4 linked regions of the Homo sapiens genome follow. The protein of the gene in region 1 purifies or fractionates together with the protein of each later gene. This does not show direct contact. Each region holds a gene or a part of one and is shown in the gene's direction. Other genes may lie near its edges.

What was found.
Region 2: the proteins of PCLAF (region 1) and ZC3H11A purify together in Homo sapiens (affinity purification with mass spectrometry, with the first as the bait; one large-scale study listed by BioGRID). This does not show direct contact.
Region 3: the proteins of PCLAF (region 1) and DLAT purify together in Homo sapiens (affinity purification with mass spectrometry, with the first as the bait; one large-scale study listed by BioGRID). This does not show direct contact.
Region 4: the proteins of PCLAF (region 1) and ING1 purify together in Homo sapiens (affinity purification with western blotting, with the first as the bait; one study listed by BioGRID). This does not show direct contact.

What each region holds. Positions count from the first base shown.
Region 1 is NC_000015.10:64,374,730-64,382,243, reverse strand, and holds the start of PCLAF (PCNA-associated factor), read left to right. Parts: upstream 1-802; 5' UTR 803-872; coding exon 873-918; intron 919-1,205; coding exon 1,206-1,286; intron 1,287-5,338; coding exon 5,339-5,501; intron 5,502-7,514. UniProt on the Homo sapiens protein: PCNA-binding protein that acts as a regulator of DNA repair during DNA replication.
Region 2 is NC_000001.11:203,845,743-203,853,256, forward strand, and holds part of ZC3H11A (zinc finger CCCH domain-containing protein 11A), read left to right. Parts: intron 1-1,441; coding exon 1,442-1,945; intron 1,946-2,588; coding exon 2,589-2,665; intron 2,666-3,968; coding exon 3,969-4,284; intron 4,285-4,772; coding exon 4,773-4,939; intron 4,940-5,314; coding exon 5,315-5,382; intron 5,383-6,398; coding exon 6,399-6,657; 3' UTR 6,658-7,514. UniProt on the Homo sapiens protein: Through its association with TREX complex components, may participate in the export and post-transcriptional coordination of selected mRNA transcripts, including those required to maintain the metabolic processes in embryonic cells.
Region 3 is NC_000011.10:112,043,290-112,050,803, forward strand, and holds part of DLAT (dihydrolipoyllysine-residue acetyltransferase component of pyruvate dehydrogenase complex, mitochondrial isoform 2 precursor), read left to right. Parts: intron 1-176; coding exon 177-244; intron 245-1,848; coding exon 1,849-1,941; intron 1,942-2,573; coding exon 2,574-2,681; intron 2,682-7,514.
Region 4 is NC_000013.11:110,720,200-110,727,713, forward strand, and holds the end of ING1 (inhibitor of growth protein 1), read left to right. Parts: 3' UTR 1-3,140; downstream 3,141-7,514. UniProt on the Homo sapiens protein: Cooperates with p53/TP53 in the negative regulatory pathway of cell growth by modulating p53-dependent transcriptional activation. Implicated as a tumor suppressor gene.

The sequences.
Region 1 (7,514 bases):
ATTTTTGTATATTTTTTGTAGAGACGGGTTTCACCGTGTTGGTCAGGCTGGTCTCGACCTCCTGGGGTCAAGCGATCTGCCCGCCTCGGCCTCTCAAAGTGCTGGGATTACAGCCATGAGTCCCCGCTCCTGGCAGATTTGGCAGATTATTTAGGAGCTCTGACACCATTCGGTTCTCAAGAAGACGTTTTATTAGTTTCTTTTTATGTGTGTATGTATATACAATCCCCCTAGTTTTTGTTTAGTCTCACATCATCCTAAAGACATTTAAAAAAACCCTTGTAAACAAGTTGTATTAGCTTCCTTTTCCCCATTCCATAGAATTGTTTTAGTATGGATGCTGTACAAAGAGTTCATGCCTGGGGGACTAAAGGAAAGTTCTCAAGTTCTTTTAATTTTGATTTGCATCAAAAAGTCCGCTTAATTTCAGGTTTCACCTCCAGGAGTCAATCATTATGGACTTAAAGCTATAGTAACTTTTGAAGATCGTTTGTAATTCGCTGTCTTTGCTAGGTTTTCTTTTCTAAGCAGGCTCATTTCTGTAGTTCAGAAACTTAGCACCCACTAGTCGGGTACCCCTGGAGAGTCCTGGTACCGCCCACCTGGGGCGCCTACGAATCCTAGGCCTTTGCGTGTTGATGGACGGATTCGCGCTGCAAGAAGCCTCGCCGCTGTCACCACTGGGCATTGGCAATTGGTTCAGGGGGAACGGCGCGGAACCAATGGGAGCGGTGGCTCGGGAGAGACCTTGGAGCGCGCGGGAAAGAGACCAATATAAACTGTGGCGGGATAGTTTTCGGGTCCTTGTCCAGTGAAACACCCTCGGCTGGGAAGTCAGTTCGTTCTCTCCTCTCCTCTCTTCTTGTTTGAACATGGTGCGGACTAAAGCAGACAGTGTTCCAGGCACTTACAGAAAAGGTGAGGCGATCGAGTGTGGTACTGGAGGGCGGGGGGGTCCTCCCGGCAGCCTGGCCACGGGCGACAGACGCCAGAGGTCCCCCTGGGCCCTGTGCGCCAAACTCATCTAGCTAGCCAGGGAGTAGCCGCCTGGCCCCTTTACCTAGAAGAGGAAGTCGCAGGGGCAGGGTAAGGTTATCCTGCTGTTCTGGATCGCCAGGCTCTCCTCTCCAAGCTGCTGGGGTCCAGGACTCGGTGTCGGAACCCTCCTGCCCCTTCTGAACACCCTTTTTTGCCTCTCTTCACAGTGGTGGCTGCTCGAGCCCCCAGAAAGGTGCTTGGTTCTTCCACCTCTGCCACTAATTCGACATCAGTTTCATCGAGGAAAGGTAAGAAGAGCCCTCCTAAAGTTAGGGGATCAGTCCTGGCACCTGCAAGCCCCTGGCTTGCCATGAATTTCTTTTTCTTGAGGTACTCACGCCCGAATTTCTTCCTTGCCCTGTGATATAATAAGAGAGGCTGGGCCTTTTGGCCGGCTAGGGTAGAGGTGGGGGGGAGGTCTCATGGAAGGGAATTTCAAGCCTTGGAGTTAAGGACCGACACACCTTATCTTCAAGCCTATTTTTCTTTTCTTTTCTTTTTTTAGACAGGGCCTCTCTTTGTTGCTCAGGTTGGAGTGCAGTGGTGCAATCACTGGTCACTACATCCTCCACTTATGGGGCTTAAGCAATCCTCCCACCTCAGCCTCCAAAGTAGCTGGGGCTACAGGTACATGCCACCACGCCGGGCTTTTTTTTCTATTTTTTGTAGAGATGGGGGTCTCACTATGTTGCCTAAGCTGGTCTCAAACTCCTGGGCTCAAACAATCCTCCTACTGGGATTACAGGCATGAGCCACCACAGCCAGCCTATCAATTTTTGTTTTTTGGTTTAGTATTTTCCTTTTTCTTTCTCTTTCTTTTTTTGAGACAGAGTCTTGCACTGTTGCCCAGGCTGCAGTGCAACGGTGTGATCTTGGTTCACTGCAACCTCCGCCTCTCGGGTTCACACGATTCTCCTGCCTCTGCCTCCTGAGTAGCTGGGATTACAGGTGCACGCCACCACACCCAGCTAATTTTTTTGTATTTTTAGTAGAGATGGGGTTTCACTATGTTGGCCAGACTGATCTCAAACTCCTGACCTCATGATCTGCCTGCCTCAGCTTCCCAAAGTGATGGGAACACAGACGTGATCCACCACGCCCAGCTATTATTTTTCTTAATAATAACAGAGGCTATTTAAATATTGTTAGAGGCTATTTAAAAGCCCCCTTAGTAGATTAAGGGTTTGAACAATCGTTAACAGTGCTGAGTGCTCATTGCAATGTCTACTAAACTTTAATAAAAATGTTTTTGTTTTTGTTTGCTTGTTTTTCCTTTCTTCCTTACTCTTTTTTGTTTGTTTGTTTGTTTGAGTATGATGTCTGTGGGTTTTCTCCAACTTTGCAGCTCCTAATACTGTCTTTGGGAGAGTAGGAGTGAAACCCGGCAAAGGAAATAGCTTCACGCTGCTCCTTCTGTGCGTGGAGTAGATGAGAAAATGCCCTGCCATCTGGTGCCTCATTCCTTTCAGTAGGAAATTTGGCAGACAGGGAGATTAACGCTACAAGATTTAATTAAGAACATAAAGGTGAACACTGTTTAGGACTTCATGGGTTTTAAAGTCAATTCAAATTTCTCCCTATTATAAACATTTCATTAGAAAACATTTACTATTTCTATCTCTTCAGATAAAAGGAAATAGAAGTTGATGAATTTTTTTAGAGTAACTTATACCCTGTACCACTAGACTAAGTTTCTTTTTCTTTTCTTTTTTCTTTTTTTTTTTTGAGACAGGGTCTCACTCTGTTGCCCAGGCTTGAGTGCAGTGGTGCAATCACAGCTTACTGCAGATTTGACCCCAGGGTTCAAATGATCCTCCCACTTCAGGCTCTTCCCAAGTAGCTGGGACTGTAGGCGCATGCCACCACACGCCCGCCTAATTTTTGTGTTTTTTGTAGAGATGGGGTTTCATCACATTGCCCAGGCTGGTCTCGAACTCCTGGGCTGAAGCAATCCTCCCGCCTCAGCCTACCAAAGTGCTGGGATTACAGACGTGAGCCACCACGCCTGGCCTGATGAAATTTCATTAGAGCCGCATCTCATCGTCTGGTCCACTGTTGAATCACCAGAGCCAACTAAATAGGCCCTTACTGAATATATGTTGAATAAATGCATCCTTTAAGGCATTTTAAAAATCTCTATTTTTAATCCGAATAATTGGATGTATGAAATGGGTAATATCCTTATTTTAAAGATAAGGAAATTTAATATCTGGTTATATAACTTGATAAAGGTCACACAACTAAATCAGTGGAGTTGGGTTTGAACCTGTTGCTGCTATATTTTTTTTTTTTTCTGAGACACAGTCTCGCTCTGTCACCCAGGCTGGAGTGCAGTGGCATGAACTCGGCTCACTGCAACCTCCGCCTCCCGGGTTCAAGCAATTCTTCTGCCTCAGCCTCCTAAGTAGCTGGGATTACAGGCATGCGCCACCATGCCTGGCTAAATTTTGTATCTTTAGTGGAGGCAGGGTTTCACCATGTTGGCCAGGCTGTTCTCAAATGCCTGACCTCATGATCCAACTGCCTCGGCCTCACAAAGTGCTGGGATTACAGGCGTGAGCCACTGCGCCCAGCTGCTGCTGTATGTTTTCTAGTAGTAAAAGCATTCCTGTAAGGTTCCTTTGGGAAAACTGTGAACCAAAAGATCACTATCTTTTATATGCCATTCCTTCTTTTGGAGGCGAAGGCGGGACGGTTGCCTCAGCCAGGAGTTTGAGACCAGCCTGGACAACGTGGCAAAACCCCATTGCTATTTTTATAAATGTAAATAAATAAGTAGAAACAATATAACTTCAGAGTCTATATGGAAACAACTTTTGTAAGCATTCTTTAACAACTAGAGTTGTTAAAGCAAATGTTTTAGCTTAAAGCAAAAGATTTGCAGTAACTGAATAATTTGTTCCTGGTCATTACTTTATAAAAAGGCAAGAATTTTCCCTCAATTTCTCCTTATATTACTGTTGAAAAATAACCAGGAATTGGCCGGGCAGGGTGGCTCACACTTGTAATCCCAGCACTTTGGGAGGCCAAGGCGGGCGGATCATGAGGTCAGGAGATCGAGACCATCCTAGCATGGTGAAACCCTGTCTCTACTAAAAGTACAAAAAATTAGCCAGGTGTGGTGGCGGGCGCCTGTAGTCCCAACTGCTCGGGAGGCTGAGGCAGGAGAATGGCATGAACCCGGGAGGCGGAGCTTGCAGTGAGCCAAGATCGTGCCACTGCACTGCAGCCTGGGTGACAGAGTGAGACTCTGTCTCCCCCCCAAAAAAACAAAAACAAAACAAAAATTAGCTGGGCGTGGTGGCGGGCGCCTGTAATCCCTGCTACTCGGGAGGCTGAGGCAGGAGAATCACTTGAATCCGGGAGGCAGAGGTTACAGTAAGCCAAGATTGCGCCACTGCACTCCAGCCTGGGTGACAGAGCTAGACTTTGAAAAAAAAAAAAAAAAAAAAAAAAAACACCAGGAATTGGACTTCTCTTATGAACTGAAAAGGAGCCAGGTGCTTTGAAAAATGGAATCTACTTTTGTGGAGACTTTCACATTGCCTCTTATATGTGCTTTAACTAAATGACCTTAGTAAGTAAAATGTTGGCACTTTATACTACATGGTCCTATCTTATGTTAGGAAAAAGTGTGTCAAACTTCAGTATGTCAGTACATACAAGAATATATATATATATATATATATATATATATATATATATATATATATATATTTTTTTTTTTTTTTTTTTGAGACAGAGTCTCGCTCTGTTGCCAGACTGGAGTGTGCAGTGGCGGCGCAATCTTGGCTCACTGCAACCTCCGACTCGCTGGTTCAAGTGATTCTCCTGCCTCAGCCTCCCAAGTAGCTGGGAATACAGGCACGTGCCGCCACACCCAGCTAATTTTTGTATTTTTAGTAGAGACGGGGGTTTCACCATGTTGTCCAGGTTGGTCTCGAACTCCTGACCTTGTGATCCACCCTCCTCAGCCTCCCAAAGTGCTGGGATTACAGGCGTGAGCCACTGGACCCGGCAAGAGTATTTGAATAGCTCTGCTTGTGGACAAAATATAAAAATATTTTTCAGTTGTAAAAATTCTGTTACTACTGTTATTGCTAAGATAACCATCACACTGAGTTTATTGGTGGAATACAGCTTTATTGTGTCACATTTTCTAATTCTTTAAGTTGTATATCTTAAATAAAGATTATTTAATACCTTTGAGAATTTGATGTTAAAGAAGGAATTAAGTTGTTTAAGGAATAGAGATTGTATTATTAGCACTTATCTAGTTCCATCTGTTTATATTTTACAGCTGAAAATAAATATGCAGGAGGGAACCCCGTTTGCGTGCGCCCAACTCCCAAGTGGCAAAAAGGAATTGGAGAATTCTTTAGGTTGTCCCCTAAAGATTCTGAAAAAGAGAATCAGATTCCTGAAGAGGCAGGAAGCAGTGGCTTAGGAAAAGCAAAGAGAAAGTAAGTTTTTATATTCTGGAATATAAAGAAAATATTTATCTCACGCCTGTAATCCCAGCACTTTGGGAGGCCGAGGCGGGAGGATCACTTGAGGCCAGGAGTTCAAAACCAGCCTGTCCAACATGGTGGAACCCTGTCTCTACTAAAAATACAAAATTAGCTCGGCGTGCTGGTGCACACCTGTTGTCCTAGCTATTTGGGAGGCTCAAACAAAAGAATTGCTTGGTGCAGCAAACCACCATGCACACATATACCTATATAACAAACTTGCATGTAATGCACATGTATCTCATTTTCACGCCACTGCCCTCCAGTCTGGGGGACAGAGTGAGACTCTGTCTCAAATAAAAAATTAATTAATTAATTAATAAAGAAAATATCTTGAAAATAAAGGACAAATAGGATATTGAGTCAAGTTTCTCTTCAAGCTCATAAGAAAATGCAAAAAAAGTTTTTAAAAACTTCTTCTAATTTCTTATTATAACTCACTCCCAAATTTCTTTTCTTTTTTTTTTCCTGAGACGGAGTCTTGCTCTGTTGCCCAGGCTAGAGGGCAGTGGCGCTATCTCAGCTCACTGCAACCTCCGCCTCCCAGGTTCAAGCAATTTTCCTGCCTCAGCCTCCCAAGTAGCTGGGATTACAGGCACACGCCACCACGCCCAGCTAATTTTTGTATTTTTAGTAGAGACAGGGTTTTGCCTTGTTGGCCAGGCTGGTCTTGAACTCTTGACTTTGTGATCTACCCACCTTAGCCTCCCAAAGTACTGGGATTACAGGCGTGAGCCACTGCATCCAGCCAGCAAATTTCAAACATTAGTAAAAAGTATTCTTTTTACTCTTCCCAATCTCTCAAAGAGGATCAGTTCCCATTCACATAAGTGCTATGTCATTAACCATGAACTTAGTGTATTGAGTCTTTAATTCTTACTGTCTTTTTCCTTTAGGCTTTTCTTACAAGGCAATTTCCTTGTTGGCTTATATAACTTGAATTCCATTAATCCTGTCCCTTAAAAAACTACCAGTTCAACTTGCACAAGAAATATATAACCAGGCTGTGTGCGGTGGCTCATGCCTGTAATCCTAGCACTTTGGGAGGCTACAGTGGGCAGATCGCTTGAGCTCAGGAGTTCCAGACCAGCCTGGGCAACATGGTGAAACCCCTTCTCTACCAAAAGGGTGGCGGCGCCGCCTATAATCCCAGCCACTAGGGAGGCTGAGGTGGGAGAATTGCTTGACCCTGGGAGATGAAGGTTGCAGTGAGCCGAGATCCCGCCACTGTACTCCAGCATGGGTGGCAGAGTGAGGACCTGTCTCAAAAATAGGCCTGGCACAGTGGCTCACCTCTGTAATCCCAGCACTTTGAGAGTCCAAGGCAGGCAGATCACAAGATCAAGAGATCGAGACCATCCTGCAACATGGTGAAACCCCGTCTCTACTAAAAATACAAAAAATTAGCCGGGCGTGGTGGCACGTGCCTGTAATCTCAGCTACTCGGGAGGCTGAAGCAGGAGAATTGCTTGAACCTGAAAGGTGTTGGTTGCAGTGAGCTGAGATCGCACCACTGCACTCCAGCCTGGGGGACAGAGCGAGACTCCATCTCAAAAAAAATCAAGTAAAATAAAAATAAAAATATGACCAATATGGAAAAGTTGGAAAATATAGAAATCCCCATCACCTAGAACCAACTAGGAATAATACCATGGTGTATTGTCTTTACAACTTCTCTGTAAGTACGTAAGAATAGTGAAAAACAAAAAGTAGGGATAAAACTACACACACCAAACTTGGTGTGCAACCTTTAAAAAAAAGTTTCCGAGTTTCATCCGTTGTATTTCATGAATATCTCATTCCTTTTTTCCTTTTTTTCTTTCTTTCTTCCTTTTTTTTTTTTTTTTTGATATGGGGGTCTCACTCTGTCACCCAGGCTGTAATGCAGTGGCCCAATGTTCGCTCACTTCAACCTCTGCCTCCTGGGTTCGATTGATTCTCCCACCTCAGCCTTCCAAGTAGCTG
Region 2 (7,514 bases), on another chromosome or scaffold:
TAGGCCCAGCTACTTGGGAGGCTGAGGCAGAGAATCACTTGAACCCAGGAGATGTAGGTTGCGGTGAGTCAAGATGACACCACTGCACACTCCAGCCTGGGCAACAGAGCAAAACTCTGTCTCAAAAAACAAGCAAACAAAAAACACAGGTAGCAAGAGAAATGAGAACAGCACGGAATACTCCAAGTAGAGGGAATAGTATACTCAGGAGTTTGGAAAGTGAGACAGAACACAGTATATTTTAAGATTTCAGACTGGGTATGGTGGCTCACACCTGTAATCCCAGCACTTTGATTGGCTGAGGCAGAAGGATCACTTGAAGCCAGGAGTTTGGAGACCAGCCTGGGCCACATAACAAGACCTCGTCTTTACCAAAAAAAAAAAAAAAAAAAAGATTTTGAAAAGATATAATTTTTTTGGGGGGGGGGTTCATTAAAAGCTGTTATTCAGTGATTACATATATATGTGTATGATCTCCAAATTATCATTTATTTCATAGCACTATCTCTTTTCATTATTTATTTTCTTAGCCCTTCAGTAATGAGAATGGTTCTATCTGTGAAGTGTGACATTTGGTCTTCAGTTTAGACAGATATAGAACGATTAATGTATCATTGAAAATAGCTCTTCAGTGGCATGCCAATTTCTGGGCCTTCTGCATTTTTCTTCTATCTTGTCACCTGTTTTACCTTCTTTTTATCCTTTAAATTTAATATCATTTCCTTGTAGACAAGTGTAGGTGTTCCTGCTGTGTCCTTTTATAGCATTATACCTACCTTATCAAAGCAGTTATCATTACCATACTCTGCTATAGCTAGTTTAATTATTGATCTGTTAGACTGTAAATTACATGTGGACAGAGATTTTATTTTGCTTACCATTGTATTTCTAGCCCAGTGTTCATTACATGTTTATAGCCATAAGTTAATGAAGAATTTATTGCTATTTTTGTTAAGATTTATAATGACAAATTTATCCAACTAGTAAATGGCTTTCAGTTTCTGAAGAATAAGCTTCTGAATAGAAATACAAATCAATTTTTGCCTCCAAAGAGTTTTCCTTGAGGACCACTGCCTGGAACTTGCAGTAATCTAAAATTGAAATAGAAACAATTAGCCGGGCTTGGTGGTGGGTACCTGTAGTCCCAGCTACTTGGGAGGCTGAGGCAGGAGAATCACTTGAACCCTGGGAGGCAGAGGTTGCAGTGAGCTGAGATTATACCACTGCACTCCAGCCTGGGTAACAGAGTGAGACTCTGTCTTAAAAAAAAAAAGAAAAAGAAAAAAAGGAAAAGAAATAAATGTTACCCTTTTGATCCTTTTAATTGCCTGCTTAAATGATAGCTCTCTGTTGGACTGTCTTGATCCAAGAATAGAGAGATCATAAGTCAGTAAGAGATGAACTTCAAGTATAATGACATGTTTTTCTCCTGTGAAAACAGATAAAGTTAATAAAGTTGGTGAGATCCATGTGAAGACATTAGAAGAAATTCTTCTTGAAAGAGCCAGTCAGAAACGTGGAGAATTGCAAACTAAACTCAAGACAGAAGGACCTTCAAAAACTGATGATTCTACTTCAGGAGCAAGAAGCTCCTCCACTATCCGTATCAAAACCTTCTCTGAGGTCCTGGCTGAAAAAAAACATCGGCAGCAGGAAGCAGAGAGACAAAAAAGCAAAAAGGATACAACTTGCATCAAGCTAAAGATTGATAGTGAAATTAAAAAAACAGTAGTTTTGCCACCCATTGTTGCCAGCAGAGGACAATCAGAGGAGCCTGCAGGTAAAACAAAGTCTATGCAGGAGGTGCACATCAAGACGCTGGAAGAAATTAAACTGGAGAAGGCACTGAGGGTGCAGCAGAGCTCTGAGAGCAGCACCAGCTCCCCGTCTCAACACGAGGCCACTCCAGGGGCAAGGCGGCTGCTGCGAATCACCAAAAGAACAGGTAACAAGAGAACTTGGTCTCTAGTACCACGTCCCCACATAATATTCCAGAGGAGTGTTCCGTGGGATCTTCCTAGGAGTTGTTTGACAACCTTTCTTTACTCAGATAACGTTGAAAACACTGAATTAAATGAAGTTTTTCAGTAGTGCTATGTAGACCTATGCTATTTTGTTTTATTTTATTTTTGAGACAGAGTCTCACTCTGTCACCCAGGCTGCAGTGCAGTGGCATGACCTTGGCTCACTGTAGCCTCCACCTCCTAGGTTCAAGTGATTCTCCTGCCTCAGCCTCCCAAGTAGCTGGGGCTACAGACATGTGCCACCACACCCCGCTAATTTTTGTATTTTTAATAGAGATGGGGTTTCAGCATGTTGGCCAGGCTGGTCTCAAACTCCTCACCTCAAGTGTGATCTGCTTGCTTCAGTCTCCCAAAGTGCTGGGGTTACAGGTGTGAGCCACCATGCCCGGCCAACCTTTGCTATTTTAATGTGTATTTTGAGACTTTAGGAGCACAGATGGGCTTTATCTGTAATTTTATTTGTCCTGTCTTACTACTTTCATTAAATAAAGTTTTGTTTAACATATCTATCATGAAGTTGCAGCTTAAATAAAATAACTAATGATGTCTTTAATGTGAATACAGGGATGAAAGAAGAGAAGAACCTTCAGGAAGGAAATGAAGTTGATTCTCAGAGCAGTATTAGAACAGAAGCTAAAGAGGTAAATTTAAGATTATTGTATGGTTTTGTTCATGGCAAACAAAGGCTAGATAATTGGTAGTTTTACCTTACAATAAATTTCTAAGTACTTCATTCATATATTAGGTAAACAGTCTTTCTTTTTACTTATAATTTCTTATGAGAATTTCCTGTAGTTCTATGTATATCAGTATTCGCTGCCCTTTTAAAGTTTTTTGTTTGCCGGGCGCGGTGGCTCACGCCTGTAATCCCAGCACTTTGGGAGGCTGAGGCGGGCGGATCACGAGGTCAGGAGATTGAGACCGTCCTGGCTAACACGGTGAAACCCCGTCTCTACTAAAAATACAAAAAATAAAGTTTTTTGTTTAATTGGCCATTACTTTTTTTTAACTGAGTTTTTTCTAATGCTATGCATCATACAAAAGTTGGAAATTTTATTTTTTTTAAAACTGAACAAACCCTAAAAATATACAGCTCAGATGTAACCATCATTATCTTTTCCATGGATTTCTTCGAGCTTTTTCAGTCTTGCTCTGTTGCCCAGGCTGGAGTGCAGTGGCATGATCTCGGTTCACTGCAACCTTTGCCTCCTGGGTTCAAGCGATTCTTGTGCCTCAGCCTCCCATGTAGCTGGGATCAAAGGCATGCACCACCAAGCCTGACTAATTTTTGTATTTTTAGTAGAGACAGAGTTTCTCCATGTTGTCCAGAGTGGTCTCGAACTTCTGGCTTCAAGTGATCTGCCTGCCTTGGCCTCCCAACGTGTTGGGATTACATGTGTGAGCCACCACACTTGGCCTTCTTCGACCTTTTTGTTTATATATGCATGCATGTGAATTTGTTTAATGTTAAACCCATGTTTAGAACATAATGGAGAACTCTACAGTGTATCATTTTACAGCCTGCTTTAACTTTACCATGTTAATAATTCTTCAAGAAGTTTGTTTTTACTGACCACATGATTCTCCATTATACAAATACAGTCTTTTTCTGGACATTCAGATTTTGTTTTACACAATTTAAAGTAATATATTTGTACATAAATCTTTGTGCAGGTATTTGATTATTTAGGAATCATTAGTATTTGACTTAGAGTCATGGTTGTCTAGCCTGTGGAATCTGGGTTTTTTATTATTCCATACATCTGTAATTCTAATCTTTCATCTTTAACAGGGTATTGTCTATTTAACATCAAATAAAGAGCTTTTCTCTCAGATTCTGGATCATGTGAGATTCTGCTTAACTTAGATGTTAGCCTGGTACTTACATCATACAGGTTATTAGAGGTACCAGATTTTAATTCTGTCATTCAAATTTATCCACAGGCTTCAGGTGAGACCACAGGAGTTGACATCACTAAAATTCAAGTCAAGAGATGTGAGACCATGAGAGAGAAGCACATGCAGAAACAGCAGGAGAGGGAAAAATCAGTCTTGACACCTCTTCGGGGAGATGTAGCCTCTTGCAATACCCAAGTGGCAGAGAAACCAGTGCTCACTGCTGTGCCAGGAATCACACGGCACCTGACCAAGCGGCTTCCCACAAAGTCATCCCAGAAGGTGGAGGTAGAAACCTCAGGGATTGGAGACTCATTATTGAATGTGAAATGTGCAGCACAGACCTTGGAAAAAAGGGGTAAAGGCAAGTATTTCTATACTGTGTATTGCTTTAGGTTATCAAAATTACCAAATTCAACCCAATTGTTGCCAGTAACTTCCTGGCAACAATTGGGTTGAATTTCATTTGCCTTCTATCCACAGGTAGATAGTAATATTTCTGATATTTTTATACAGAGGCAAAACGAGATGAATTCTTTTCTCAGAATTTAAAATTGCTATTTAAAAAGCTTTGTGTAAAACTTTCTATGGTGCATCTTTCCTCTGGTATTGAATAAAAACAAGGAATAGAGGAATGGTAACAAATTTAAGTGGTATTGTATCTACATGGTGACCACCTGTAGTGACCACCATGTGACCACAAATTGCCTTTGAATCGTTTTCAGTCTCTTTTTAAATGAATTATTTGTGGTATTTCTAGTACTGAAGGAGTTTTGATATTTTATTCTGAATTATTCCCCATTTAAAAGAGTCTATTCTCACTGCTTATCAGATATTTTCTGCCCTTTGTAGCTAAACCCAAAGTGAACGTGAAGCCATCTGTGGTTAAAGTTGTGTCATCCCCCAAATTGGCCCCAAAACGTAAGGCAGTGGAGATGCACGCTGCTGTCATTGCCGCTGTGAAGCCACTCAGCTCCAGCAGTGTCCTACAGGAACCCCCAGCCAAAAAGGCAGCTGTGGTAAGAAGTATATTCACTTTGTGGTGCTTTATTCTGTGTGGTAGGAAAGCAGGAAAGACTAACTCTCCACTAGCATTCTATCTTGAGTATATCACTTCCTGGCATTTCCTAGCATTTTAGTAATTTGGGTTACTACTGTATTTTATACTTACAGTTTGATATTTGTGAAGTAGCAGGACAGGATTTTTTAAAAGCTAATTTTTAGGTGGCAAGATATTTTGCTTATTTATATACTCAACCTTTAGATTATCGATTCTTAGATTCACAGGCTTAAAGAATCATAGCCACAATTCTAAGAAGGCAGCAAAAGAAAATGAATATGCTCAAATTAAAAAGCCTGACTCTCACTGAATTACCTGACTCTTCCTTTTGTAGGCTGTTGTCCCGCTTGTCTCTGAGGACAAATCAGTCACTGTGCCTGAAGCAGAAAATCCTAGAGACAGGTAATACTTTGTAATTCTTTCTAAACAAACTCCAGGCCCCTGTTACTGTTTAGGCTCTCTAGAGAATAACACTGATAAATAACTTTAGCAACATTCAAATAAATCTGTTGCACTTCAAATTAATTGCAAGAAAGTATGAAAATCTAGGGTTGCTGTTCTTCTTTGGTGCCATTGTTTACATTTTGCTATATTACCTAAAAGATGTTTTTTTGTTTTTTTGTTTGAGGCAGCGTCTCACTGTGTCACCCAGACTGGAGTGCAGTGGCACAATCTCTGCTCACTGCAACCTCCACTTCCCGGGTTCAAGCAATTCTCCTGCCTCAGCTTCCCAAGTAGCTGGGATTACAGGTGCCTGCCACAAGGCCTAGCTAATTTTTGTATTTTTAGTAGTGACAGGGTTTTGCCACATTGTCCAGGGTGGTCTCAAACTCCTGACGTCAAGTGATCCACCTTCCTCGTCTTCCCAAAGTGCTGGGATTACAGGCATGAGCTACCATGCCCGGCCCCTGAAAGATGTCTTTAACACCTACTTTGAGTTATAAAAATGCTTGGTGCTGGCCAGGCAAGGCGGCTTATGCCTGTAATCCCAACATTTTGGGAGACTGGGGCTGGAGAATCACTTGAGCTCAGGAGTTCAAGACCAGCCTGGACAACATAGTGAGGTCTTGTCTCTAATAAAAATCAAAGAAATAAAAAAAAAATCACATGGTGACACACACCTGTAGACCCAGCTACTTGGGAGGCGGAGGCAAAATGATCGCTTGAGCCCAGGAGGTCGAGGCTGCAGTGAGCCATGATTGTACCACTACACTCCAGCCTGGGTGACAAAGGGAGACTCTGCCTCAAAAAAAAAAAAAAAAAAAAAAAAAAAGCTTGATCCCAAATCAGTAAAAGAATTATTTCTTTATGTATGTTCTTAAAAACAAATTTTTGCTCACTTTGTGTCCGTGAGACTAGGTGATTCAGCCAACTATTTTTAAAACGGCAGTTTTCTAATAATCTTTTTTTTCTTACAGTCTTGTGCTGCCTCCAACCCAGTCCTCTTCAGATTCCTCACCCCCGGAGGTGTCTGGCCCTTCCTCATCCCAAATGAGCATGAAAACTCGCCGACTCAGCTCTGCCTCAACAGGAAAGCCCCCACTCTCTGTGGAGGATGATTTTGAGAAACTAATATGGGAGATTTCAGGAGGCAAATTGGAAGCTGAGATTGACCTGGATCCTGGGAAAGATGAAGATGACCTTCTGCTTGAGCTATCAGAAATGATTGATAGCTGAAGGTGGTAGTGAGGACACTTTAAAAAAAAAATCGCCAAAAAACTGGACTTAGTTTCATCTATTGTAACATTTACCTGAGATGATCATTTCTTTAGTCTAGAATTTGCCCCAAATCAGAAGTATACCTCTGAATTATCTGTATGTGTCCTGGATTCCTTGGGGTCAGATTTTTAAAGTTACTTTATAACCATTTTGTCCATTTGATGCCATTGTTTATCATCTTTTGAGAAAAAAGTTCTGTCATACCCTTCTCTCCACAAAAAAGAGACTGAGAGGGAGATCAAGTGAAAGGGTGCAAGCGAACTTAGTGACTCCTTGAGGTGTTTGTCAGTTTTGGCTTTTTTCTTCTTTGTTGTATTCTTTATGTATTGTCTTGATGTACTTAATATTACCTGAGTTTGAAATGGATGAAGACAGCTGCTACCATTAAGGACCAAATTTTATGCTACCACTAAACAAAAATACCCACTCAGTCTGTGTTAAATTGTATGTCTTTTTAAAGGTATTTAAAGATTCAACTAAGCTTTAAAGAGGGCTGAGCAGCTCAGGAAGCCTGTAATGTGGGCATAACTCTTTGGACCTGATCTTGATGCTTCTGCTGCTCTGTTAGCCTCTGAAGAGCAATATCTAATTTATTATTACTGTAATTTTTTAAAAGGCTTTAAAGTGCCTCAGGGGTCCCCTGAAACTAATTTTCTATTTCTGGGATTCCCTGGATTCATTATATGAGATGGTGACATGATTAGAGGAATTCTTTTTTAGTATGAAAATTGTCCTTTTTCTTCTTCAGTACTTGCCTCCTTGCTGGCATTGAATTAACACAGGGACAAAATTTGGTTAATTTTTTATTTCTAACT
Region 3 (7,514 bases), on another chromosome or scaffold:
TTGACAAAAGCTGGTATTTGTAGGTAGCACCTTAAGGGGTAGGGTTAAGGCTGTGAACCTTTCAGAATGTTTTTGGTAGTAAACCCTTAGGAGCTTGCAGTTTAGGATCACAGCGTTGATCTCCTTGGGGAACCAATGGTATGTCATCATGTATGTGATATTTATGTCTCTTACAGGGACAGGACCAGATGGTAGAATCACCAAGAAGGATATCGACTCTTTTGTGCCTAGTAAAGTTGCTCCTGTGAGTTATGTGTAGCTCTTACTTTTTTTGCAGTTTGTCTCTACAGCCTGTTAGACCATTTCATACATTATTTATGAACGAAATAGCTCAACCAAGATTGTTTTCTTCTAATTTCAGTGGTTTAATAATACAGTCATCCCTCGGTACCCATGAGAGGTTGGTTCCAGGAGCCCCCTTGTATACCAAAATTCGCAAATGCTTAAGTCTCTTATATAAAATAGTGTAGTATTTGTATATAACTTACCCACATCCTCTCAAATACTTTAAATCATCTCTAGATTACTTATAATATTAAATACAAGGTAAATACTATGTAAATAGTTGTTATATTTTATTGCTTAGGAAATAATAATAAGGACAAAAAGTCTGTACTTGTGCAGTTCAGATGCAACCATCTGTTTTTTTCTGGAATATTTTTGATTTGCCTTTGGTTGAATCCAGTGATGCAGAACTTATGGATATGGAGGGCCAAGTGTATTTAGATATTTGTGTGCTATCATTTATATACAAGATCAAAGATGATATACTACATTGACATGTATTCCACATTATGTTTTGAGCTAGTTAATCGGTTTTTGCTTTGAAATAAAAGATTTGTTCTTTTTTTCTTTTTCAAAATATTTTAAAGTACAGTTGAATGAGTTGTTTTTGGTGTTTGGTTTTTTTTGTTTGTTTGTTTTTGAGACAGTCTCACTCTGTCGCCCAGGCTGGAGTGCAGTGGCGCGATCTTGGCTCATTGCAACCTCTGCCTCCTGGATTCAGGCGATTCTCATGCCCCAGCCTCCCAGGTGGCTGGGACTACAGGTGCATGCCATCACACCTGGCTAATTTTCGTATGTTTAGTAGAGACAGGGTTTCGCCATGTTGGCCAGCCTGGTCACGAACTCCTGGCCTCAAGTGAGTCATTGTGAGGCTCAAGTGAGCCTCCCAACCCCCTTTTCTTAACATTGTTTAGGATAATGGATTAGCTTGTTTATACTTATTTATTATTCCTTGCAACTTAAGAATGCTTCCATTGCTTTTCTTGAACATAATTTTGCAAAAACAAAATTATTTTGACACAAACTGGTCATTGAACATACTCTGATACAAAGAAAAATGACACTTAAAACATGACTTCAGAATTCTAAGTAAAAAAATTAAAACTCTTAAAACAAGCAGAAGTCTCTTTTGCTCACTGGGGACAGAAATAGGTATTCTATAAAGCTTAGTTTTTAGACTGGACATGGTGGCTCATGCTTGTAACCCCAGCACTTTGGGAAGCCAAGGTGGGTGGATCACTTGAGCCCAGGCATTTGAGACCAGCCAGGGCAACGTGGCTAATTTCCGTCTCTACTAGAAATCCAAAAAAATTAGCTGGGCATGTTGGCGTGCACCTGTAGTCCCAGCTACTCTAGGGGCTGAGATGGGAGGATTGCTTGAGCCCAGGAGGTTGAGGCTGCAGTGAACCATGATTGAGCCACTGCATTCTAGCCTGGGTGACAGAGCAAGACTCTGTCTCAAAAGACAAAAAAAAAAAACTGCATAGTCACTGGCAGTCTTTCCCAGGTACTTACGCTAAGATTGAATCACAGTTACTAAGAGCTTTTTCTTTCCTCCCATAGGCTCCGGCAGCTGTTGTGCCTCCCACAGGTCCTGGAATGGCACCAGTTCCTACAGGTGTCTTCACAGATATCCCAATCAGCAACATTCGTCGGGTAAGAGAATTACCATCATCTGGAATCAGCTGTTAGGGGCATCTTTAGGTTGTTTAGTTGCTTCCATAGTTTTTAACACATTAACAGAGGCTTTTTAAGTTGGGAATATTGGATGATTACTTTAAGGGAAGTTTTGGCCAACTGAATACTTGAATCACTTTGTTCCTATTAGAAGGGCCAGGCGCAGTAGCTCATGCCTGTAATCCCAGCACTTTGGGAGGCCAAAGCGGGCAGATCACAAGGTCCAGACTTCGAGACCAGCCTGGCCAACATAGTGAAACACCCCGTCTCTACTAAAGATACAAAAATTAGCCGGGCATGGTGGCACATGCCTGTAGTCCCAAGTACTCGGGACGCTGAGGCAGGAGAATTGCTTGAACTTGGGAAATGGAGGTTGTGGTGAGCCGAGATCGCACCACCGCACTCCAGCCTGGGCAACATAGCGAGACTCCATCTCAAAAAAAAAAAAAAATCTAGGAGGTGTTATATTATGGCGGAGTCCTCCATCTTTCAATTATAATAATGCTTGAGGTAAGTATTAGCAGAGAGTAAGGTGAAGAGACAAACAGAGCCCTAAATTAGTTAAGGTCTTAACTCAAGATAATTGATTTTTTAAATCTCTTTGGTTTCAGGTTATTGCACAGCGATTAATGCAATCAAAGCAAACCATACCTCATTATTACCTTTCTATCGATGTAAATATGGGAGAAGTTTTGTTGGTACGGAAAGAACTTAATAAGGTAAAAGTTCTGAAAATTCCAACTTTCTAAGTTATAAAAATTTTGTCTTTCCCCACCAAACATTTATATTTTTGTCCATATATTTTGTTACAATATATCAGTTGGTGGTTACTTTCTTGATCTTGTCCTTTGAAGCACAAGATTTTAAATATTGGTTATGTCCACTTTTATCAATTTTTTTCTTCTGTGCTTTTGGTATTATATCTAAGAAACTATTACCTAGTCTAAGGTCATGAAGATTTATACTTTTGTTTCCTTGTAACAGTTTTATACTTTTAGTTCTTATATTCAGGTCTTTGCTCTATTTTGAGTTAATTTTTTATAGGTGGTGTGAGATAGGAATCCAACCATTGTTTTGCATGTGGACATTTATTCTTTCATCCCAGCACCATCTTTCCCCATCGAATTGTCTTGGTATCCTTGTCAAAATTAATCATATATGTGAGAATTTTATTTCCAGATTTTTTTTTTTTTGTAGATCTTGTTATTTTTTGTTTTGTTTTGTTTTATTATACTTTAAGTTCTGGGATACATGTGCAGAACGTGCAGGTTTGTTACATAGGTATACACGTGCCATGGTGGTTTGCTGCACCCACCAACCCATCATCTACATTAGGTATTTCTCCTAATGCTATCCCTCCCCTTAGCCCCCCACCCCCCTACAGGTCCTGGTGTGTGATGTTTCCCTCCCTGTGTCCATGTGTTCTCATTGTTCAACTCCCACTTACAAGTGAGAACATGCGGTGTTTGGTTTTCTGTTCCTGTGTTAGTTTGCTGAGAATGATGGTTTCCAGCTTCATCCATGTCCCTGCAAAGGACACAAACTCATCCTTTTTTTTATGGCTGCATAGTATTCCATGGTGTGTATGTGCCACATTTTCTTTATCCAGTCTATCATTGATGGGCATTTGGCTTGGTTCCAAGTCTTTGCTATTGGGAACAGTGCTGCAGTAAACATATGTGTGCATGTGTCTTTATAGTAGAATGGTTTATAATCCTTTGGGTCTATACCCAGTAATGGGATTTCTGGGTCAAATGGTATTTCTGGTTCTAGATCCTTGAGGAACCGCCACACTGTCTTCCACAATGGGTTGAACTAATTTACACTCCTACCAACAGTGTAAAAGCGTTCCTATTTCTCCACATTCCAGCATCTGTTGTTTCCTGACTTTTTAGTGATCGCCATTGTAACTGGCGTGAGATGGTAACTCACTGTGGTTTTGATTTGCATTTCTTTAATGACCAGTGATGATGAGCTTTTTTTCATGTTTGTTGGCCACATAAATGTCTTCTTTTGAGAAGTGTCTGTTCATATCCTTTGCCCACTTTTTGATGGGGTCATTTGTTTTTTTCTTGTAAATTTGTTTAAGTTCCTTATAGATTCTGGATATTAGCCCTTTGTTAGATGGATAGATTTCAAAAATTTTCTCCCATTCTGTAGGTTGCCTGTTCACTCTGATGATAGTTTCTTTTGCTGTGCAGAAGCTCTTTAGTTTAATTCGACCCCATTTGTCTATTTTGGCTTTTGTTGCCATTGCTTTTGTTGTTTTAGTCATGAAGTCTTTGCCCATGCCTGTGTCCTGAATGGTATTGCCTAGGTTTTCTTCTAGGGTTTTTATGGTTTTAGGTCTTACGTTTAAGTCTTTAATCCATCTTCAGTTATTTTTTGTATAAGGTGTAAGGAAGGAGTCCAGTTTCAGTTTTCTACATATGGCTAGCCAGTTTTCCCAACATCATTGATTAAATAGGGAATCCTTTCCCCATTGCTTGTTGTTGTCAGGTTTGTCAAAAATCAGATGGTTGTAAATGTGTGGCATTATGTCTGAGGCTTCTGTTCTGTTCCATTGGTCTATATATCTGTTTTGGTACCAGTACCATGCTGTTTTGGTTACTGTAGCCTTATAGTATAGTTTGAAGTCAGGTAGCATGATGCCTCCAGCTTTGTTCTTTTTGCTTAGGATTGTCTTGGCTATACGGGCCCTTTTTTGGTTCCATATGAAATTTAAAGTAGTTTTTTTCTAATTCTGTGAAGAAAGTCAATGGTTGCTTGATGAAGATAGCATTGAATTTATAAATTACTTTGGGCAGTATGTCCATTTTCACGATATTGATTCTTCCTATGCATGAGCATGGAATGCTTTTCCATTTGTTTTTGTGTCCTCTCTTATTTCCTTGAGCAGTGGTTTGTAGTTCTCCTTGAAGAGGTCCTTCACATCCCTTGTAAGTTGTATTCCTAGGTATTCTATTCTTTTTATAGCAATTGTGAATAGGAATTCACTCACAATTTGGCTCTCTGTTTGTCTGTTATTGGCGTGTAGGAATGCTTGTGATTTTTGCACATTGATTTTGTATCCTGAGACTTCACTGAAGTTGCTTATCAGCTTAAGGAGATTTTGGACTGAGATGATGGGGTTTTCTAACTATACAATCATGTCATCTACAAACAGACAATTTGACTTCCTCTTTTTCTATTTGAATACTCTTTATTTCTTTCTCTTGCCTGATTGCCCTGGCCAGAACTTCCAATACTATGCTGAATAGGAGTGGTGAGAGAGAGCATCCTTGTCATGTGCCAATTTTTGAGACTGAGTCTCACTCTGTTGCCCAGACTGGGGTGCAGTGGCGTGATCTTGGCTTACTGCAACCTCCACCTTCCAGGTTCAAGCAATTCTCGTCCCTCAGCCTCCCGAGTAGCTGGGATTACAGGTATGAGCCACCAGGCATGGCTAATTTTTGTATTTTTAGTAGGGACAGGATTTCACCATGTTGGCCAGGCTGGTCTCGAACTCTTGACCTCAAATGATCCACCCACCTTGGCCTCCCAAAGTGCTGGAATTACAGCCATGAGCCCCCATGCCTGGCCTATTTCCAGGTTCTTAATTCCATTCCATTAATCTCTGTATACCCTTAATGTCAGTACCACAGTCTTGATTACTTTAGCTTTGTAATAAGTTGTAAAATCAGGAAACGTGAGTCATCTTTGTTCTTTTTTCTCAAGATTTTTTTTTTTTTTTTTTTTTTTTTTTAAAGACAGAGTCTTGCTCTGTCACCCAGGCTAGAGTGCAGTGGCGTGATCTTGGCTCACTGCCAGCTCTGCCTCCCGGGTTCATGCCATTCTCCTGCCTCAGCCTCCCAAGTAGCTGGGACTACAGACGCCCACCACCATGCCCGGCTAATTTTTTGTATTTTTAGTAGAGACGGGGTTTCACCGTGTTAGCCAGAATCAAGATTGTTTTGTCTGAGTCCCTTGCAATTCTAAGTGAATTTTAGGATTAGCTTGTAAATTTCTGCATTGAAGCCAGTTGACATTTTGATAAGGATTGATTGGATGTATCTGCTGATCAGTTTGGCAAGTGTTGCCATCCGAAGAATATAGTCTTTTCATCCATGAACATGTAGATGCCCCTGTATTAGTTAGGTGTTCTTCAGTCTCTTTCAACAGTTTTTTTATAGTTTTTCAGAGTGTAAGTTTTGCACTCTAAATTTGCATTTGTTAAACTTATTTCTAGGTATTTTATTCTTTTTGATACTACTCTAAGTGGAATTGTTTTCTAGATTTCATTTTCAGATTGTTCATTGCTACTATATAAAGGTATGATTGATTTTTTTTTTTTTTTAAGACTAGTCAGGTATACTAGTGAGAAGGGCGGAAGAGTAGAAAAGAAGTTAGATTTATAATGGACTCTGAGCAATCAATTGAGATAACAATTCATTTTTCTATATTGATCTTTTTTTTCATATACCTGCTGAAATGGGATCTATATTGACCTTGTATCCTGCAAACTTGCTGAAGTCATTTATTAGTTCTTACAGTTTTTTAGTGTATTTCTTAGGTTTTTCTGTAAACAAGATAATGTTATCTGCAAATAGAGATAATTTTACTTTTTTCATTTTGACCTGTATGCCTTTTATTTCCTTTCTTGCCTAATTGCTCTGGCTGGCGCCTCTAGGCAATGTTGAATAGGTGTAGCAGAAGTGAACATCTTGTCTTGTTCTCGATCTTTGGGAGAATAAGTCTTTGGTCATTAAATAGTTGTGAGGTTTCCATAGATCAGGTTGAGCAAGTTCCCTCCTGTTCCCAGTTAGTAAGAGTGTTTTGATCATGAAAAGGGGTATTGAATTTTATCAAATGCTCTTTCTGTGTCTGTTGAGATGATTATGTGTTTTTTGTCCTGTATTCTGTTAGGACATTATTACATTAATGGATTTTCAGATGTTAATGGAAATTTGCATTCTTGGGATAAATCAGATTTGATCATGGTGAATGATCCTTTTTATATATTGCTGGATTTTATTTGCTAGCGTTTTGTTGAAGATTTTTACATCTATATTCATAAGATATTAGTGTGTACTTTTTTTTTTTTTTCTTCTAATGTCGTCTTTGGTTTTGGTATCAGGCTAATCCCGGCCTTACAGAATGTGTGGGGAAGTGTTTCTTGCTCTTCTTTGATTTTTCTTTGAAAGAATTTGTGAGGAATTGATATTAATTCTTCTTTAATATTTGGTAGAATACTGACGAAGCCATTTGGGTCTAAGCTTTTCTACATGGGTAGTTTTTAAATTACCAGTTCAATCTCTTTGTTAGTTATAGGTCTATTCAGAGTTTTTGTTTCTCCTTGGTTCAGTTTTGGTAGCTTGTGTCTGTATGGTTGTTCATAGTATTCCCTATAATTCTTTTTACTTCTGTAAGGTAGATAGTAATGTCCCCTATTTCACTCCTAATTTTAGAAATTCTAGTCTTCTCTCCTCTTCTTGGTCAGTCTAACTAAACATTTATCATTGTGGTTGTCATTTGATTGATCTTTTCAAAGAACCAAATTTTGTTATTGTTGA
Region 4 (7,514 bases), on another chromosome or scaffold:
CGGGAGGAGGGGGACTAAACTCAACCTAACACATTAAATGTGGAAGGAAAATATTTCATTTAGCTTTTTTATTTTAATACAAGTAATATTATTACTTTATGAACAATTTTTTTTAATTGGCCATGTCGCCAAAAATACAGCCTATAGTAAATGTGTTTCTTGCTGCCATGATGTATATCCATATAACAATTCAGTAACAAAGGTTTAAAGTTTGAAGATTATTTTTTAAAAAGGTAAATGGTTAAATTTTACATGACAGATATTTTATCTATTGGCCTGTTCCCCAAATGGCCATTTTAAAATGCTTGGGTACACTTCTCTTAAGTGGTCTAGTCAAGGAACCTCAAGTCATGCTTTTGCTATCACCAATCATAGTGTACCCATCTTTAATTTATATCAGGTGTATAAATGTACATTTCCAAATGAACTTGCACTTGTTATATTATAATTGGAAGTGCAGTCAGCAGATGCTGTTGTGAAGCTAATGTCACAATTATGTGCAAAGGTGTGCTTCCTGCTGTATGTGAGCTGTAAAAATGTTACGTGAAGAAATAAATGAAACTTGGCCAGTTTGTTCCTCTAGTAGTATATTTAATTTTGACATAAGTAACTTTTAAAATTTGTCTTAAAAATTTATACACCAGCAATTTAGACAAAGCCTTAAGCAAATTTTGTATTATTGTTCTCACTTATTATTAATAATGAAGTAGAAGTTACTTAATTGCCAGCAAATAAATACGTGTCAAAAAAGAATCTGTATTCAGACCCTGGGTCAGGAAATTACTGCCCACTTGTCAAGTTCAGCCCACCATCTGTTTGAAGATTATATGAAGTTTAAATTCTAGTGTCCATAAATAAAGTTTCAGCGGAACACAGCCGTGCTTATGTGCGTATGTATTGTCTGACTGCTTTTGCAAAACGGCAGAGTTCAATAGTTGCACCTGAAACCATTTGACTTGACAAGCCAAAACTATTTTCTGGCCCTCTGCAGAAAGGGTTTGCTGACCTCTGATTTAGACTAGCATCTAACATTGATTTGCCCACATATTGAAAGGGTCAGTGGAGTTTTCATTTATTATTTTTTATTTTTTTGAGATTGAGTTCCAGGCTGGAGTGCAATAGCGCAATCTTGGCTCACCGCAACCTCCGCCTCCCAGGTTCAAGCGATTGTCCTGCCTCAGCCTCCCCAGTAGCTAGGATTACAGGCATGCACCACCACGCCTGGCTAATTTTGTATTTTCAGTAGAGACGCGGTTTCTCCATGTTGGTCATGGCTGGTCTCGCACTCCCGACCTCAGGTGATCCACCTGCCTCAGCCTTCCAAAGTGCTGGGATTACAGGTGTGAGCCACCGTGCCCGGCTGGAGTTTTCATTTTTTTTTTTTTTTTTTTTTCTGAGATGGAGTCTCACTCTGTCTCCAGGCTAGAGTGCAGTGGCCCAGTCTTGGCTCACTGCAACCTCTGCCTCTCGGGTTCAAGCGATTCTCTTGCCTCAGCCTCCCGAGTAGCTGGGACTACAGGTGCGTGCCACCATGCCCAGCTAATTTTTGTATTTTTAGTAGAGATGGGTTTTCACCATGTTGGCCAGTATGGTCTCGAGCTCTTGACCATGATCCGCCCACCTCGGCCTCCCACAGTGCTGGGATTACAGGCGTGAGCCACCGTGCGCTGAGTGATACGTGGTTCCCTTTAACTTCGCACATGGTAAAATCAGTTTCTTTCCATGATCTGTTTCACAGTCTCTGTGAAGCTACCTACCACAAAGAAGTAGTGAGTGATGACTTTCTAGAATCTAAGTATATGGCATGTATTTATTATAAGTAAAACATTAAGTTTGCTGATTGTTTACTTGTGATAAACAATTATTGTGAACTTTATTTGTGCTGGACATAAGTGTCTGTTTTACAGTGAAATTCCATTATAGAGGGTTACTTGGTAGAGAAATGCAAATTGTAGTTGGTCATATACTAAAATTTGAACTTTTTACATATCAATACTTACAAATAGGTGTTTATTTTCCCACAAAACTCCAGAACATTTAAGAGTCTCGGGTGTTTAAATTTGATGAGATTTACCCAAACAAATAGTGAACAAAAGGTTTATGAAAATAAGTTATGAAACTAAAATACTTAATAAACATCCAGTGACAATAAAAATAGCTTGAGTCTTTGCTTATATAAAATTTCATGCTAATTTTTCACTTCTATATTAATTGGAGGTAATAATGCAAATTAAGTTATAGAAATGAAGATTCAATGAAATGCAGTTGCTCATCCTGGATTTCTTCATATTCAGTTTTGGTGTAGACAACTGGTGAAGAGAGATGGCTCAGAGGCCAAGCCTTGCAATCTAGGAGCCCAGCCCTGTCCTTTAAGGGCTTGATCTTGAATAAATTGCTTAACAGTTGGTCTATAGTTCTACACTTTTAAAGTATGTTTCACAGAGGGTGGTTCCAATAAATAAATGCACTGGCATATTCAAATGTTGGATAATTTTTCTCTAGCTTTCTTCAAGTTTCTCATAAGGACAGGTGGGTAGCCACTTATTCTTTAAAAAAAAATAGATACAATACAGAGTCGTGTTGGACTGGCAGTCTTAAATCACTCTTGTTATTTCCAGTGGACATTAAAAAAAAATCACAGATAAGTACTTAAAACACTCAAGATTTGGGATTTAGATCATGATTAGATACAATAGAAAGATCCTGGAATCCCGACATGAGGACAAAAATGGTACTGAATTCTTTTTGAAAAATAGATTACTGAAAAGCGATCTAATATAGAACAGTTGCTTTTACTTAGATGTTCAATGCATATTTGTTGTATAATAACCAAGTTATTACAGTTCAGATAAAGGGTCCAAAGTGTTTTCGTTATGATATAATACTTTCTATTGTAAACTGGACTAAAGAAACGTTGTATGTTCAAGGAAGTGTTGAGCAGCCATGGTGTTCCTGGGACAGGCTCCCCAGGTGCTGAGAGAGGTGCTGCAGGAGTCACAGACCTGCAGGCACGCACTTGCCAGTGACTGGGACGTTGGCTGGTGGTTCTCTTTTGGTGTGATTAGAGCTATGTGAGTTGTCTCAATACTTGAGACTGTCGGTGGTTGCCAATGCTGAATAAAGCATTTATCAAAGTAAAAGCCATTTCCTCTTATTATATATTATTTTAGAAAGAGTACACATTTAGTTGTGATATCCTTTTGTAGTTCACATTTATGTAGTGTTCCAGGTAATAAGTTACCTGGAACTTACCTGAACACTTCAATATTTCATTAAAGTATTAAATCTTTTTCTTAGGCAAAATGATTAAGAGCTTCATCTGTGCACTTCTAAAGACATGATGTGCTCTCGAGGACATCTAGCTTTTTTCCTTCTATCTAATGTAATTTATGGCTCTAGAATCCTTGGCATATATGGAGAGAGGTTTTATTGATACTGTCTGCCTCCCTCTCCATTTTAGCGTGTAGAATGTGCCTCTTTCATCGCAGAGTCCAGGCAGTTCTCAGCACCTTGGGGGCTAGATTTCCGGGGTTTTTTTAATCTGGAAAAATTGCTAGTCCGTGACTGCATTTCTTGAGGCACTCGTGTTCTCTGCACAGGCTCTCATTGTGAACTCGTGGAGGGCTTAGGAAGACACCGCTAATGGGAAGGAGGTGGGAGAGCAAATGTGTGTTGTGTTACTAAGTCAAAATTGCCTCCTGAGGCTTTTTATGAGGGGCTTTGTTTCAGAGTATTTATTTTAACTATTCCGTCTTTGTTTTTTAAGCAGCTCATCAGTGAGAATCCAACTATTACATTTTTTTCTAACAAACCAAACATTAGTGAGCTGTGCCCCCTGTGCCACCAAAAGAATGAGAGGAATTCTATAACTGGAATGAAGAAAATCATTAGGCCAGTTCTCTTTCCTTACCTCAAATACTCTGTATTACTTGACTGTTCATAAAGATGGGGTTGGTATTTTTCCAATTAAAAACCCCAATCTGAAAAGAAGCTACTACAAACTGAGTAACAGGTTAAATCTTTTTTTTTTTTTTTTTTGTTTCCCCTGAGACGGTGTCTTGCTCTGTCACCCAGGCTGGGGTGTAGTGGCCTGATCTTAACTCACTGCAACCTCTGCCTCCTGGGTTCAGCGATTCTCCTGCCTCAGCCTCCCGAGTTGCTGGGATTAGAGGCATGCACCACTACGCCCAGCTAATTTTTTTGTATTTTTGGTAGAGATAGAGTCGCACCATGTTGGCCAGACGGTCACAAACTCCCGATCTCGTGATCCGCCCGCCTCAGCCTCCTAAAGTGCTGGGATTACAGGTGTGAGCCGCCACGCCCAGCCCAGGTTAAATCTTGACTGGAGCCAGTAAACTCCATTAAAGTAAAATTTTTCTTTTTCTTTTTTCTTTTCTTTTTTTTTTTTTTTTGAGACAGAGTCTTGCTCTTGTTGCCCAGGCTGGAGTGCAATGGCACGATCTCGGCTCACTGCAACCTTCGCCTCCTGGGTTCAAGCTATTCACCTGCTGCAGCCTCCCGAGTAGCTGGGATTACAGGCGTGTGCCACCAAACCCGGCTAATTTTTGTATTTTTAGTAGAGACAGGGTTTTACCATGTTGGCCAGGCTGGTCTTGAACTCCTGACCTCTGGTGATCCACCTGCCTCAGCTTCCCAAAGTGCTGGGACTACAGGTGTGAGCCACCGTGCCTGGCTAAAGTAGAAATTTTCTTTTTTTCTTTTTTTTTTTTTGAAGTGGTTAGAAAAATTTATTTTGTGCTTAGGATTTTTTTCTTTTTCTTTTTTCCTTTTTTTTTTTTGAGACGGATTTTTGCTCTTGTTGCCCAGGCTGGAGTGTAATGGCGCAATCTTGGCTCACTGCAGCCTCCGTCTCCTGGGTTCAAGAGATTTTCCTGCCTCAGCCTCCCAAGTAGCTGGGATTACAGGCAGGCGCCACCACGCCACACCCAGCTAATTTTGTATTTTTAGTAGAGACGGGGTTTCTCCATGTTGGTGAGGCTGGTCTCGAACTCCTGACCTCAGGTGATCCACCCGCCTCAGCCTCCCAAAGTGCTGGGATTACAGGCATGAGCTACAGCACCTAGCCCCTTAGGATATTTTTCTAAGGCATCACAAGTTACACATCCAAACTCTTCAATGGTATAATATTTTATATTAAAGTAGAATTTTCTACGAAACAAGAAAATGCTTGTTTCAGCAGGCAACTTTAAATAAAGGTACTCAGTGTCGTGGTGTATGTATATCAATATAGCCACCATTTATTGCCTCCTATATGCTAGACATTGCTAGCACTGCATACTTCATATTTTATGACAACCCTGCCAAAAAATGGCTGCTTTTCCTGATGAAGGTGCTGAGACTCCAGCCAGGGACCTGACTTGCACAAGGCCAACGCCCTGCATCTGGCTCCAAAACCAGCATCCTTGACCACCGCCTGGCACCCGGAGGCCTCCTCATGGTCAGGACCTGGCGTTGCTGCTGGTCTTCCCTGAACGCCTAACATGCCAGGAGTGTGCTGTCCTCCCAGCTCTGTGGGGGTCTTACAACTGAGAAAGCCATAGAAGGTGAAAGAAACGCTCATGGTCTCACGGGAGGAGAGAGCGAAAAAGTCTTAATTGCTGGGCTTCTTTGCCTGAATGAAGGGATCTGCAGGAGCCACGGGTATTTGCACTACCAAGTTCTCATGCTTCTGATTTTCCTCCAGGTAAACCAGGATGCTTACTTCAAGTTTCTTGTTTTGCCCTACAGTGAATTTTAGGATTGTAATTTACCTGCAAGGTTTTTGTTTGTTTGTTTTGTTTTGTTTTTTCGAGATGGAGTTTCGCCCAAGCTGGAGTGCAATGGCGCAATCTCTGCTCACTGCAACCTTCGCCTCCCGGGTTCAAGCAATTCTCCTGCGTTAGCCACCCGAGTAGCTGGGATTACAGGCACGCGCCACCACACCTGGCTAATTTTGTATTTTTAGTAGAGACGGGGTTTCTCCATGTTGGTGAGGCTGGTCTTGAACTCCTGACCTCAGGTGATCCGCCCGCCTCGGCCTCCCAAAGTACTGGGATTACAGGCATGAGCCACCGTGCCCAGCCTACCTGCAAGGTTTTAAGCAATTCACTAGGAGCCATGCACGGTGCTAGAATCAGCATGAGAGTCAAAGTCAGATTTGAATCAGGACTAGTTTATCACAGGTTAACCTCAAGGAAGTCACTCTTCTGTACCCAATGTTCTCAGAAGCAAAATAAGGACAGTGATAATGCCCATCCCAGGAGTGGAGGCCCAGACTTGTTAATGTCTGAAAATACTTCAGAAATGCTAGAGCACTGTACAGATAACAATTTGAGTAATATTTTTGGTCAAATTATTCTAGTTTAACACATGTATTCTTAAAAAATGGACTTGTGATTCCTTACAGCTAAAGAGAATCAAGTCCACCCTTAGCATGTTAGCGGTCACTGCCAGGTTCCTGCTGCACGAGGAGGAAGTCCTCCATGGCTGCTTTTCTATAAACAATTCCATTTCTCGTTGTAGAACACAGAAGTAAATACATCGAATTTTTATTTTTAGTAGCAATCAGAGCCTACTAAACTTCCTTTTGACTCACCTCTTGATTGAATTCAGAGTAGGCAGAAAATCTCATTCAATCTCTTCACTGTGTGGGTGAGGAAACCGAGGCCCAAGGGTGATGAAGCCACTTCCTCAAAGGCACTCCGTGAGTTGGTGGTGGGGCTGCCGGCAGGATGAAGTGCTGTTACTCCAGGCCAGAGCCACTCCCCCGCTTCATCAGCCATGCTGTTTCATGGGTGCACCTGTTCTCATTTATGTGGACGTTAGGAACCGTGGGTCTCTCGTGTTAAGCCATAGGCCTTTAATAAAGACGTGTAGAGTAAAGCCTGAATCCAAGAATTGACATTTAAACATGAAACATTTTCTTTTCTAACTTGGAAACCAGTTCTAAAAACACACCTAAAAGGGAATTTCAGTTTGATTTGTGTGAAGGGAATATTTTTGGATAAATCTGTATGCCATTGGAAATGCAATATTTCTAAATGATTAATATTTGAGACATTAATGTAATGAGACATGTAATGTCATGTAATGTAACGAGACATGTAATGACATGTAATGTCATTACATATTTGAGACATGTAATATTTGAGACATTAATGTAATATTTTTATTACATTTAATAAATTTTATTTTTATTATAAAATTTTTATTATAAAATTTTATAAAAACAAATGTAATGATCAATCACAGAGTTTAACAATGTATCCATTTACAAAGATGCCTGGAAACAGTTTGCTGTCTCCCAAAGTGTTTATTTAACATAAGAAATTGTTAGATAAATACTTATTTTCTCTATTATTTGAGCATCTTTTGGTTGCAAGTAACAATAATTGACTATGTCTCAAGCAAAGACAGGAAAGATAAGAGAAGTGTCAGAAAATTCAGGAATCGGAAGAGCAATGAGGACACCGCAGCAAGGATTTTTCTCTGCAGCACAGATGTGTTCAGACACA